4 linked regions of the Homo sapiens genome follow. Changing the gene in region 1 together with any one later gene gives a genetic interaction. Each region holds a gene or a part of one and is shown on either strand. Other genes may lie near its edges.

What was found.
Region 2: changes in DAZAP1 (region 1) and RABGEF1 together harm fitness more than expected from each alone (negative genetic interaction), as found in Homo sapiens cells (one large-scale study listed by BioGRID).
Region 3: changes in DAZAP1 (region 1) and SAR1A together harm fitness less than expected from each alone (positive genetic interaction), as found in Homo sapiens cells (one large-scale study listed by BioGRID).
Region 4: changes in DAZAP1 (region 1) and RAB1A together harm fitness more than expected from each alone (negative genetic interaction), as found in Homo sapiens cells (one large-scale study listed by BioGRID).

The regions. Positions count from the first base shown.
Region 1 is NC_000019.10:1,406,370-1,410,385, reverse strand, and holds the start of DAZAP1 (DAZ-associated protein 1), read right to left. Parts: upstream 2,801-4,016; 5' UTR 2,613-2,800; coding exon 2,584-2,612; intron 2,502-2,583; exon of another isoform or gene 765-2,501; coding exon of another isoform or gene 307-764; intron 1-306. UniProt on the Homo sapiens protein: RNA-binding protein, which may be required during spermatogenesis.
Region 2 is NC_000007.14:66,771,733-66,775,232, reverse strand, and holds part of RABGEF1 (rab5 GDP/GTP exchange factor), read right to left. Parts: intron 3,351-3,500; coding exon of another isoform or gene 3,334-3,350; coding exon 3,155-3,333; intron 1,543-3,154; coding exon of another isoform or gene 1,406-1,542; intron 7-1,405; coding exon 1-6. UniProt on the Homo sapiens protein: Rab effector protein acting as linker between gamma-adaptin, RAB4A or RAB5A. Involved in endocytic membrane fusion and membrane trafficking of recycling endosomes. Stimulates nucleotide exchange on RAB5A. Can act as a ubiquitin ligase.
Region 3 is NC_000010.11:70,153,515-70,157,014, forward strand, and holds part of SAR1A (small COPII coat GTPase SAR1A), read right to left. Parts: intron 456-3,500; coding exon 324-455; intron 1-323. UniProt on the Homo sapiens protein: Small GTPase that cycles between an active GTP-bound and an inactive GDP-bound state and mainly functions in vesicle-mediated endoplasmic reticulum (ER) to Golgi transport.
Region 4 is NC_000002.12:65,089,231-65,092,106, forward strand, and holds part of RAB1A (ras-related protein Rab-1A), read right to left. Parts: intron 1,849-2,876; coding exon 1,753-1,848; intron 1-1,752. UniProt on the Homo sapiens protein: The small GTPases Rab are key regulators of intracellular membrane trafficking, from the formation of transport vesicles to their fusion with membranes.

The DNA of each region.
Region 1 (4,016 bases):
TCCCAAAGGAGGACACTGTCCATCACATCCACCATGTAGGGTCCGCGTGCCAAACCCACCAGGATCCAGAGAGGGACTCCCCACACCCCACCACACGTATGCGCTTCCTCCTGCATGAAGCCCCCCTCAAGCTGACTGGAAGTCGGTGTGTGTAAGGCATCCGTTATCACCGGCAGGCCTCAGCTGACTTTCATCCCCCATCAAGCTTTACATGGACTTCTAAGCCAGCACAGGGACCCTCAAAACTTGGGACGACTTCTCAGACTCAAAAGCAGAGCTTCCCCCAAGGATGGCTCCCTAACCCACCTTCCAGGTGTGGATTCCCAGGGCAGCAGCTGGACGGCCACAAGTGTCCCAGAACAGGGGGCTCCCAAGCTCCAAGTCTCCTGAGGCGTTGACCCCGCACCCATGCATGCTCCAGGCCCAGCCCTCCAAGCGGGGTCCGGCGGGATCTCCTGCCTCCTCCATGGCAGTGAGCAGTGAGGGCTCTGCATCAGGAAGAGGGAGCTCCTCAGGCTGCCGAGCCCCCCCAGTGGGTAAGGGACACCGCAGACCCATGGCGTCCTGAGAGCCGCCATCTGCCGCAGAGAGGGCCTGCTTCCATCCAAGCTCAGCACCCTCCTGCATGGCACCCACCGCACCTGCAGGGGACTTGCCAGGAGGGCGCTTCGCAGGGTCACAAGCATTTCACGCACACAACAACTCCACACAGCAAGATCAGAGCAGACCGTGGACTCCGCATAGAATGGAAGCCGGTCTCCCATGCGACGGGCGGCTGTGGCAACACTTCTTGCCCAAGGAGTCTGACTTAGAAAGCAGTGGACACTCCTGGCAGCCGGGGAGGAGAGCAGGGTCCATGCACTCCAGTTCTCCTCCACGCAGCCCGTGGCGTCCGGGTGGCCTGCGAGCCTATTTGTGCTGTGGGTGGGACCCCTCCAGACCCAGGCTGGGACCCCAGCTGCCCCACTTCCCAAGGGTGTCCATGCAGGGAGGGGACAGGAGCCCTCACCTCTCTCCAGCCTCCTCACAGCCACGGCTTGGGTGGAGCGGGCCCACGTTCACCCGCGGCTTGAATGGACCTAATCCAGGTACCCCATCTGGGAGCCCTTTCCCTGCCTCACCCCAAAGTCGATGGCTCCATCCCCCATGGCCGGTGGACTCCCTGCTCAGGCCCATCCCTGCAATGTCCCTCACACAGGCACACGGACCCTGCCAAGTCAAAGTGCCTGGAGAGGACTCACAGCACGGGCTAGGCAGGGGCTAAGTGCTTTCATCCTGGTTCTCCAACGGAAGGTGCTCTTTTGTTTTGTCTGGGGAGGGGGAGAGCCCACAAAAGGCATTTCCCATCCACAAGTGTGACCTGTAGCTGGTGCGAGAGGCGCCTGCCAAGGCAACCCTCTAGCAGCAACCGCTCCCGCACTAGCCAAGCCCAGCGCTGAGAACACAGGGCGCTGCTCAAAGCTAAGGGCACCGAGAAATTTACACCAGACCACTAGGAAACCCAACCCAGACTGTTTTGCCGGAAGAATGCAACTCTAAAACGACGTCGCTGCGGCAGGAGCCGCTCCTACCAAAGAATGGCGCCGAGCCCTGGGGCACAGCGAAATGAGGTTTCCCGGCCCCGCGGGGTCCGGAGCAGGTCAGGCTCCTATAGGAGGGGACGCCTCGGCGCAGCAAAGATCCGCGGGCCCGTCGCCGCCTCGGAAGCGCTGACTCTCCCTTCCGCAGCTCAAGCCCACCCCCGGCGGGGAGGCGCCGAGGCAACGTAAACACAGCAGGCCCCGGCTGACCCGAGCCCCCTGGGCCCTGGGTTTGCGAACCCCTCCCGACCTTACCACTTTGGGGGGGTGGGATGGGAGCGGGGAGCCCGGAGCCCCGAGTGGGATAGGTTGGGCGGTGGCAGAACCGGAACCCTCGCCTCGGCTCGCCACGTGCGCCGCCCGCCAAGTTTGGGCGCGCGCTGGGGGCGCCCCGGACCACCCCCCACGCCACAGTTTGGGGTCCCCCTGGCCAGGAAGCCGGGAGGCGGCGGCGACGGCGCCCTGGACTCCCCGCAGACTCCCTCAGGTTCTCATTCGGGGTCCCCCAGGCCAGGAAGCCCTACAGGCGGCAACGGGGACGCTCCAGACCCCCCCAAGTTCCCGTTCGGGGCCGCCACAACCAGGAAGCGGCGGCGGGGGCCCCTGAACCCCTCTGGCTCCCATTCGGGGTCCCTCAGGACGCGCAGTCGGGAAGCGGCGGCACGGGCGCCCCAGGACACCCCCCCAGGTTGCCGTTCGGGGTTCCCCCGACCAGGAAGTCTGGAGGCGGCGGCGGGGCCCCCCGGACCCCTCAGGCTCTCCTTCAGGATCCCCCAGGACGGGAAGCCGGGAAGCGGCGGCGGGGGCGCCAGGACCCCCCCAGACCCCGGGCACCCGTCCAGGGCCCCCGGCGCGAAGCCGCGGCGAGTCCGGGTCCCGAGTCCGCCCCCGGCCGGCGTGACCTTGACGGGGCGGCCCCGGGGGGCGGCGTCTGAGGCCGGGCGGCGGGGAGCGGCGGGCCGGGCTCGGGGCGGAGACGCAGGCCCGCGCCGCTCGTCCTCACCCGATCTCGTCGGCGCCCGAGTTGTTCATGGCGGCGGCGGCGGCGACGCTCGGCGCTCCCGGGCCTCCTCGCTCGCTCCCGCCTCCGGAAGGTCACCCGCTCCGTCGCCCTCCCCACAGCCGCGGCCCGGATCTGCGCAACGGCGGCGGCGGCGGCGGCGGCGGCGGCGGCGGCGGCGGCGGCTGCCTCCTCCCCTCGGCGCCAACGGTCACCGCGCGTCCCCGCGCCGCCGCGCCGCCGCCCCTGCGCACGCCCGGGCGCGCTCCCGCACGGGGTCTCCGGGGGCGGGTCCAGGGGTACTCCGTCTGTGCGTGCGTCCCTGAGGCGGATTTCGCGCCGCCGCAGTCGGGGCCGTCGCGCGTTTTCCTTTCTCCTCGGAGGCTCCTGGCGTTGCCGCGGGGCACGCTGGGAAATGGAGTCCCTGCGCTGGCCCCGCCCCTGCAAGGGGAGGATGCGCGCGGGCCGAGCCACGTGCGTGCGTGCGCGCGCGTGCGGGCTTGCGTGCGCGTGCGCGCTTGCGAGACCGGCGCTCCGGGCTAGGCACTGTGGGCGCAGGCGCGGCTGCCGCTTCCTCTTTAACTCTTCACTCGGAAGCGGTGGAGCCGCGTGGGGCGCTGCGGGGAGTGGGAGTGTACCCGCCCGCACCCCAGGCGGGCGGACGGAGCGGGAACGGCACGTGAGCGTCCCGCGCGAGGCTCCTTCCCCTGTCCGCATTTCACAGAAGAGGATCCCGAGGGTCCGAGAGGCTGAGTCACTTGGCCAAGGTCACCCAGTTCGGGGCTGAACTGGAATCAAATCAAAACAATTAACTAAATTCAATGACTATGAAAAGATATTATTGACCCCCCCCCCAAGTGCTATTACTATTAATAGCCAAATACTGTTTTAGTTGCATCTGTTAATTGCATACATCAGTGGTTCTTCTTCTGGGTGACTTTGCCCCCTAGGGGATAACTTGGCAATGTCTGAAAACACGGTTTTGGTTGTCACAACTTGAGTGCGGGGTGCTGCTGGCATCGAGTGGGTCCAGACCAGACATGCCGCTCAGCACCCTGCAGTGCACACGACGACCCCCCAAAAAGAATGATACCCGTCCTCCAATGTCAGCAGAAGGAGGTGGAAAAACCGGTCTAGGCTGACGGTAGTAAACAGGTGACCCGCAGGGTTTTGTAAAACCGGGTACGTGCTGCCTACTGCTTTTCTCCTTAATCTCACAGCACATTGACAGCCTGATCGTTTGGTTTATTCATCATCACAGAATTAAATAAATACAAGGAACAAGGCCGGGTGAGGTGGCGCACGCCTATAATCCCAACACTTTGGGAGGCCGAGGATCAATTTAGGTCAGGAGATCGAGACCAGCCTAGCCAACATATATAGTGAAACCCCGTCTCTACTAAAAATACAAAAGAAAATTAGCCGGGCGTGGTGGT
Region 2 (3,500 bases), on another chromosome or scaffold:
TGGAGTCTGCAATTCAAGAGAGGATTAGAATGACCTAGATATTCTCCAAGGTTTCTCTGTATGTGAAGGTTATTACTCCATTAATTCAGGAGGATCTAAAGATTTTAGACCTAGAGACTAAATATGCCAAATCAGTCTGAGGTCTCACATTGCTACAGGATGGACGGCTCTTCATGCACTACAGATTTCAAATGGGGTCTTCTCATACTCATTCAGCTACTGCTCTAGGGTTACATGAAAGAAATCAAGTCTAATCCTTTTCCCTAACAAGCTCAAGGCTGGAACAGACAAAAAGGTAAGTAAACAACTGCTACAGAATGGGACAGCTGCTACATCAGAGAGTAAAAGTTGAGTGCTGTGAGAACACAGGAAAGAACAACTCAATCTGCTGGGGGAGTCTGACGAGGCTTTACAACGGTGATGTTTGGGTGAGGTCTTAAAGGATAAATAGGATCCTTTTTTTGGTTGTTTTTGAGACAGAGTGTCACTCCATCGCCCAGGCTGGAGTGTAATAGCATGGTATCAGCTCACTACAACCTCTGCCTCCCGAGTTCAAGCAATTCTCATCCCTCAGCCTCCCAAGTTATTGGGACTACAGGCGCACACCACCACACCTGACTAATAAGGCTGAATAGGATTCTAAGTGAAAGGACATTCCAGAAAGAAGGAACTACAAATGTGCAAGCCTGTGGTTTGCTTCACAACAAGCTGAATGTAGCCAGAGCACTGGGCGTGTGATGAACTGTGATGCTGGATATACAGGAAGGCTCCAGAGGGTAGGGAATCTTGATTGCTGAGCCCACTATTCTGGATTTCATCATGTGGTAGGGAAGCAAGAAAGACTGTAAATCCAAGGAGTTATCGCTGTCAGATCTGTACTTTAGAAAGATCATGCAGGTAGCTGTGTGAACAACTTGAAGGGTAGAGAAACTAGAGACAGGAACAAGAAGTAAGAGTATATTATAAAGGTTTAAGTAAAAGAAAATAAGCACCTGGAAAATAGGAGTACAAAAGGTAAAATTCAAAAGACTTTTCTGAGTTGGAAGAAATAGAACTTGGTCAAGTTGTAGCTAGCATGGGAGATAAAAGAGAAATCAAGAATGAAACCAAGGTTTTTTAGCTAACTTGGTAAGTAGTGATGCCATTAATTGACTCAGGAGAAGGGTTAGGAGGAAAATGTTCAGAATGCGGAGAATAATAAATAAAAGCAATAAATTTGGCTTTGGATTAGCTGCATGTGAACCACCTGTATTAATTCCCAAACACAGGCCAGGTGCAGTGGCTCACGCCTGTAATCCCAGCACACTGGGAGGCCAAGGCGGCCGGATCACTTGAGCTCAGGAATTTGAGACCAGCCTGGGCAACATGGTGAAACCCTGTCTCTACATAAAATACAAAACTTAGCTGGGCATGGTGGCATACTTCTGTAGTCCTAGCTACTTGGGAGGCTGAAGCAGGAGGATCACTTGAGCCCAGGAAGCAGAGGTTGCAGTAAGTTGAAATTGCACCATTGCACTCCAGCCAGGGTAACAGAGCAAGACCCTGTCTCAAAAACAAACAAACAAACAAAAAGCACAAGCACTATCTAAAAGACAATGATTTTCCAAGTATGATTCCCCAGACAGCAGCGCAGCATCACCAGGCAACTTGTCAGAAATGCAAATTCTCTAGTCTTACTCCCAAGCCACTAAAATCAGAGACTCTGTGGGTAAGGTCCAGCAATCACTGCTTTTACAAGCTTTCCGAGAGATTTAGCAGGGTCACAATTAAAAGCAGTAAGAAATAGAAACAAAAATCACAGGTGGAGGTGCTAAGTCTGAGGGTGGAATCGGGACCCCTCTTTCTCTGGGACAGACAAGAAGTTAATATAAAGGTACTAGGACATTTTTATGTGGTGAGGGGAGGAAGCTGAGGGAGTTTGTGCCTAGTGGCCTCTACTCTGTTTTTGAAACAGGATCTGCTACTGACAGCATCAGGCATGCAGTGGAAACCCTGAGGAGATCATTCATGTTCTCGGCTAAAATTTTCTCTCTTTGATTGAACACAGTCACTGAAAGCAATGTGTAATTTCTAATTCTCTGAGTTCACTACAAATGACAGCAAAGGAGTCACTCAACAAATATTGGCTGACTGGATGAAAAAAAAAAAACAAACAACTAGCTAGAGGAGTTGGCAGAATTCCATTTGACTTTCTTCTGTTGAAGCAGTTTTAGAATTCTAGAATGCTCTGGCAAAGAATTAACATTATTCATGGCATTTTATTAGTTCCTATGCTCACTAGCCATCCCATCATTTATTTATTTATTTATTTATTTTTTTTTGAGACAGAGTCTCACTCTGTCTCCCAAGCTGGAGTGCAGTGGCATGATCTCAGCTCACTGCAACCTCCGATACCTGGGTTCAAGCAATTCTCCTGCCTCAGTCTCCCAAGTAGCTGGGATAACAAATGCGTACCACCATGCCCGGCTAACTTTTTTAATATTTTTAGTAGAGAGGGGGTTTCACCATGTTGGTCAGGCTGGTCTCGAACTCCTGACCTCAGATGATCCTCCTGCCTCACCCTCCCAAAGTGCTAGGATTACAGGCGTGAGCCACTGCGCCCGGCCCATCGTTTAATTTTTAACATCATTATATTTCCGGATAATACCAAATGCTAACCTAATTTTTAAATATAAGTTAAATTTCTACAATGCAATGACTATGTATACAAGTCAACAGATTTCTACTACTGTGTTTTATCACTGAGCTAGATGCCATGCTAAATATATATTAAAAGAATGAGGGAAATAATGCTTGATGAGTGCCATTTCCAAGCCCTGCAGTGGGTACGTCAAATTTATTAGCTCATTTAATCTTCACCAGGAAATATGCCTATCTCCATTCTTCCACTCCAAGGAGCTTATTGTCTACATTTGAGAACTAAAACTAACACAACCCAAAGAAAATAATCAGAAGACAAACACAAAATGAAGAAACTACTGAAAGCTGTTCATTAAAAGCTGACTGAGAAGAAGAGAGGAAAACATCCTTTTCCTTAATATTAAACTGACTTGCTGATAGCTCAAAGCAGAAGTGAAAAAATGTATTTAGACGGTGACAGAACTATGTATCCAGTCACGTCACTGTTCAACCGCCCCTAGTTAAGTCCTTTTACCGCTCCGCCAGCTCCCAGTCCTCCTGAATCTGCTTCTGCCTGGCTTTGTGGTACTCTTCCCTCCAGCACTTGGAGCAGAAACCCTGCCAGGCAGGGTTGCCGTAGTAACCACATCCTTTCTTGCACAGGAGATCCGATTGATCCACATGAATTCCTCGGCGTTCAGACTTAAGGCTCATCTTCTTCCTGCTAACCACTGAACAAACAAGAAAGTGCTGTTGAAAATGAATTATCATTCTACTAAATAAAATCTTACCAATTATGAACAAAAAGTGAGTGATTCCATTATCTTCAAGCTGTTAAGAGAGGGATGGAGGGAATGAAGGAGGGAGGGAGAAAGAGGAGG
Region 3 (3,500 bases), on another chromosome or scaffold:
AAAAAAATTATTTTCTGGCTAAAAAGGGCTATTTCAAAAGCAATTTCTCAGAATCAAATTTGAAAGATAATCATAAACTCTTAGAAGAGTAAATCTGCCTTTTCTACCATTTCCTTCTTCCTCAAATACCTGATGAATGAATCCCATTTAAAACGTTAAAAAGAACACACTCCTGCCTCTAGTGAGCTTACAAAATACTCACAGTAAAACTAATCCTAAGCCTGTTTAAGCCTTTAAAAGAAAAGGGTAATCTAGATAGCGAAACATCATGTTTTAAAAACTGTTAATGTCCTTTATATGTAACCCAAATATTTTTCTCTTACCTTTCCTGTGGTCTGTCCATAAAGCCCAAATATCTCACGGAGTTTTTCTTCACTGATTGCATCTGTTCTGTCAATTTTGTTACCCAAGATAAGGATTGGCACATTGGATATTGTTTCATCAGTCATTAAAGCCTAAAGATTGAAAAAAAAGAAAAAAAGAAAAAAAAGAATTAAGTGAGGAATCTACAAAAGCCCACCAGATAATGAAAATTCTGACTTCCACTAATCTTTTAAGGCATTAATGTAAAGTGAAAATCTGATCAACTTTATACCTGAGTGATTAAAGATTCACCTTGACATTACATAACACCCATGACATTAAGTAAAAATCTCCTAAGTGCCTCGAAACAGTTGCAACTTTATTCTATTTATTTACAAGGCAGCAGAACTGCCCCAATATTAACTTTTGAGCTAATCTGCTCAGCCACAAACTATCCTCAGGATGTCCCTCAGCAAAGTCCTATAAGAATGAATGCTCTGGCTACAGAGCCTCAAAGATGACTACAGGAATTCCCCAAGTATTCACCAAGTCCCATTGTGTGCGAAGAACTCTCTCAGGCATTGAGAGGAATAAAGTAGGAAGGGTAACTATCTCAGGCACTGAGGATACAAAAGGAAGCACATTCCTGTCCTCAAAAAAATCCTCACTCTATGTTCACATTATGTTTTTTTTCTTTTTTCTTAATCTCAGCTCACTGCAACCTGTGACTTCCAGGTTCAAGCGATTCTCCCACCTCAGCCTCCTGAGTAGCTGGGACTACAGGCATGTGCTACCACGCCTGGCTAATTTTTGTATTTTTTTAGTAGAGATGGAGTTTTACCATGTTGGCCAGGCTGGTCTCAAACTCCTGCCCCTCAAGTAATCTGCCAACCTCAGCATCCCAAAATGCTGGAATTACAGGCATGAGCCACCACGCCCAGCCACATTTATGTTAACAAAGCCAAGTAAGAACACAATATAGTGGATAAGTGTCACAATGAATGGGAACTGAATATTAACATTAAGACAAGTTCAGGGAAATAAAATGGCAATTTTGGGCTTGAGCAAAGTCTTAGAAAAGATCTGGAACCTAAACAGGGCTCTAAAGGAAGGGCAGGGTTTGGATAGGTGTAAAGGAGAAGTAAGAACATAAACAACGGCTTTGCATTAGGACAATAATTCAGGAAGCCACACAGTACTGCATGGCTGGATTCAAGCATTTAGATAGACATGCAGCGACAAAGTAAATGGATGAGAAGAGATGACTCACATTAGGGGCCAGTGTGAGAAGTGAGCTGCAATATATCCTAAAAGACCACAAATCCAGAAGTTAGTGAATAAAATCTTATTTTTCAGTATAATGAATTCACAAATAGTATCTATCTGTGGTGTTCATGTAAGAGATCATGATCTAGCTTAAGGTAGAGCATTCAATGAATACTGCAGGAGGCATTTTGAAGAAAGAATTGAAGAGACCAATGTCTAAATGATTAAAAAAAAAATTTAAAAAAGACAAATGAGTCAAAACTGCCACTGATTTCAAGCCTGGGAATCTAGTTGTCACCAATAGGAAAGCTAGCGGGGAAAGCAGAGTTAAAGAGATAAAGAGGAATGTACTTTGACCATCTGGAATTCCAGGAAATGTTACACAAAATTAGAATAAGAATGTCCTTCATTCATTAAGCAACAACAAAGTACCTAATGTGTCTAATGCTTTGCTAGGTGCAGGGGTTTTGCAAAGAAATAAGACACAGTCCCTATCATGTTAGTTCATAGTCTGATGAGAGAGAACTATAAAAAAATCAATAAAGACAACAGACATTGGTAAGGTGGGAGTCTAACACAGTCTCAGAGGTCAAGGGAGGCTTACCAGAAGCAGTCATATCTGAACTCTGAGGTCTCTTATAGAACATTTTAAAATTTGCCGACAAAGCGAGGGGTTGAGGAGAGGTACAGGTGAAAAAGCCAGGCAGTAGCTACTTGTGCATATTCAAGGATGGCTAAGTTGTTTGTTTGGAATATAGTTCAAGGTAGGCAGTAAAAAGAAACAGAGGGAGGATCATGAATGATCCTATGTGCTATGCAAAAGATTTATAGATTTTATCCTGAAAATGATAGAGAACTATCAAAGGATATTAAGTAGGGCAATTAAGTCTGAGAAAGTTCCTTCTAGCATTATGGTGCATATCAGGGTCATGGTAGGATTTATATTAATTCACAGATTTGTGGACTGCATGTCCAGGTAGGTGGTGGGTGGGAAAGACAAATAGTTCCATTCTAGGAAAACAGAATCAGTAGTAGGAGTTGTCGAGAGTAGGCAGGATTAGGTATGAGATTAGAGCTCAGGAGAGGTCTAGAGGAGAGAAATGCATTTGAGAGTCACTGACATGTAGGTGCCAAATGAAGGGAGTAGATGGGACCAGCCTAGGAGAAAGTACTCTGGAGAACACCAACATTTAAGGACTAACCAGAAGAACTAGTGCTTCTCAAAGAGACAGAAGTATCAGCCAGAGAGGTAGCTCCAAAATCAAGAGTGAAAAGAGGAGTTTAAACAAAGAGAATGGAGACCATGCATGGTGGCTCATGCCTGTAATCCCAGCACCTCATGAGGCCGAGGCAGAGGATCACCTGAAGCCAGGAGACTGAGACAAGCCTGGGCAACATAATGAGACCCTGTCTCTACAAAAACACTTTTTTAAAAAAAATTAGCTGGGTGTGGTGGTGTATGCCTGTAGTCCTAGCTACTTGGGAGGCTGAGGCAGGAATATCGCTTGAGCCCAGAAGTCTGGAGGTTACAGTGAGCCGTGATTGCACCATTGGACTCCAGCCTGGGCCACAGAGGAAGATTCTGTTTAAAAAAAAAAAAAAAAAGCAAGGTAAAGACTGCGTGGCAGGCAATTCTACATGAGGCTGGAGCTATAGATGTGAGAAACATACTTAGAAATAAATTCAAGACAGGTTCAAGTTGCCAGAAACAAGAATGCAAGGAGTTATAAATCAAAGAGAAAGAAGAGATATAGGGTAAAGGAGTAGGGATAACAAAGCCAATAGTATAGAAACCATCAAGCCATGAGAAAATGCAATGTTGACAAAGGAGAAAACTTGAAGTGAGTCCTTAATAGTATCAAAGGATGTATGCAACCAAAACTGAAGACTGAGAACAGACCATGAAGGTCTGGCAAGTCATTCAGTGGGAG
Region 4 (2,876 bases), on another chromosome or scaffold:
GAGACAGGGTCTTGCTCTGTCACCTAGGCCGGAGTGCAGTGGCACAATCACAGCTCACTGCACCCTCGACCTCCCAAGCTCAAGCCATCCTCCCGCCTCCGCCTCCGGGATAGCTGGGACTACAGGCACATGCCACCACACCTGTCTTTTTTTTTTTGGATTTTTTGTATAGATGGAGTTTCACTATGTTGCCCAGGCTGGTCTCGAACTCCTGAGCTCAATCGGCCCACCTTGGCCTCAAAAAGTGCTGAGTTTACAGGTGTTAGCCATTGCAGCTGGCCGTAAACAGATATATTAAAATGACTATAAATATCTAAACAATGACAAACTAGAATTTACAGGCTTAACGATGAAAATACCTTATTTGAAAGGGAAGTATAGCTTAATATTAAACTGCAACGCAGGCAAACCCAACTGCTTTGGAATATGCAATTTAAATGTACTACAAAACCTGGTTTTGAAATTTGATTAATTTTTTTTTTTTTTTTTTGAGACAAAGTCTTGTTCTGTCATCCAGGCTGGAGTGCAATGGCGCGATCTCGGCTCACTGCAACCTCTGCCCGCTGGGTTCAAGCGATTCTCCTGTCTCAGCCTCCCAAGTGGCTAGGATTACAGGCACGGGCCCCCACGCCTGGCTAATTTTTGTATTTTTACTAGAGATGGGATTTTGCCATGTTGGCGAGGCTAGTCTCTAACTCCTGACCTCAGGTGATCCGCCCGCCTCGGCCTCCCAAAGTTCTGGGATTACAGGCGTGAGCCACTGCGCCTGGCCTGAAATTTGGTAAAATTTTGGTTTATGAATAAGATGACCTACTGTTACTACTAGAGATGTCAAAAGATGTTATTAAATATACTCATTTTCTTTTCCACAGTCATATTTAGAGGACGAAAGTTTTCATTTAAAAATATTTCACGGTAATAGTAGAGATTTTTTAAACTAGCATCATTTTTTTCTCCTGCAGATATCACCCACCCAGCACTTCTAATGGCACTGAATCTAAATGCTTACATGTAAGTTATCTCCTAATTAGCTATGATTTCTCATTAGAGGTGAGATTTAACATTTGCCAAAAGAAAAATAAATTCCAATTTTGAACGTTTATCTTTTGTCCTTTTCTTTGATAGAAAGGACACTGAAATCTAAGTTTCTGATTTAAAAAAATAGTAACAAAAAAAGTTATGGCCCCTGGATCACATGCTTCACACTGTCCCACATTGTTCCCTCCATCGCTCTGCCCTCTCTCACAGCTAATCTTCAGATACTCATTCTCATACTAAGATCCTCCTACAGCTTATCCTATTCAAATTCTTTATTTCTGAACCACATCCTCCATAGGCAGAGACCCCCGAATCCCACTTTTGGCAATTCTGATGGACAAGTTCTAATTACCAGGCCATATTCCTGTTAATACTTAACACCAAGAACACAGTATAAGCCAAGCAACTCACGATTCCCTACAAACTCTTGCCTATATGTTAGAGTCTTGGCTATTTGATCAAAGTTATTTAGTTGACAATAAATACAACCAGAATCCCTTGAAAGCAAACGTAAAACTAATTACTAATCTTTTATTTATTACAGGAAAACAAATGTCTTTTAAGTGATTCACATTTATATTTGAGAGTGGACAAAGTTTTCTGCCATAAAATTAATACTGATGGCTTATATATGAAGTAGTAAATGAATCTGACATTAATCAAATAATGGCTTCCTACTTGGTCACTGTAACACAATCTCCTCTTGGAACTTACCTGATCTGTCACATCATACACAACTATGATGCCATGGGCTCCTCTGTAATAACTGGAGGTGATTGTTCGAAATCTTTCCTGGCCTGCTGTGTCCCACTATTACAAAACAATCAAGAAATCCAAACAATTCCATTAAAATAAAGTTGGGGAAAAGTGTAGGAGGGAGGGGAAATAGTTTAGTTTTCATAACTGTGGAGATTATCAGGATGTGATATAGAAACATTAGTCCTCAACTCATACCACTAAATTGCACGGTAATAAGCACCTGAAAGTCCAGAAAAGAAGTAGTACCTACAATTGAGCTTACGATAATAATACTAAAATTACAAGCTGTTGAGAGCAGGAACTATGTCATACTTTTCACATTCCCTACCGCCTTTAACACTGTGTTTAGGAATGCCACTGGCCGAAAGCCCTTGAACACAGAACTCTTCCATGTAAGACAAACTCACTTGCTAGCACATTCTACCATGATTAAAAGCACTGGAGGGACCTAATTCAAATAACTACCAGTCAAGACAGAACTTTAATCATCCCAAGCAGGTGTCTTTTTTTTCCCCTCTCAAGCAGCGTCTCATTCTGTCATCCAGGCTGAGTACAGTGGCATGATCATGGCTCGCTGCAGCCTCAACCTCCCACCTCAAGCAATCCTTCCACCTGAGCCTCCTGAGTAGCTGGGACTACAGGCACATGCCACCACACCCGGCTAATTTTTTCTTTTTTGTAGAGACAGAGTCTCGCTACATTGCCCAGGCTGGTCTCAAATTCCTGGACTCAAGCAATTATCCTAACTCATTCTCCCAAAGTGCTGGCATTACTGGCATGAGCCACCATGCCTGGCTAGGTGTTGTCTTCATCCTAGAGAAAAAAATGTAAGGAAGATGACTCCAAATACTTTCATAAAACGTATTTTAAGAACAATTTACTGCACTTCAACCATTTAGGCTCAAACTCCCAAAACAAATGCTAACATTATTGCATTATAGTTCTGGGTTTTAAAAAACTGTTGGGACTGGGTACGGTGGCTCACGCCTGTAATCCCAGCACTTTGTGGGGCCGAGACGGGCGGATTACGAGCTCAGGAGTTCGAGACCAGCCTGACCAACATGGTGAAACCCTGTCTC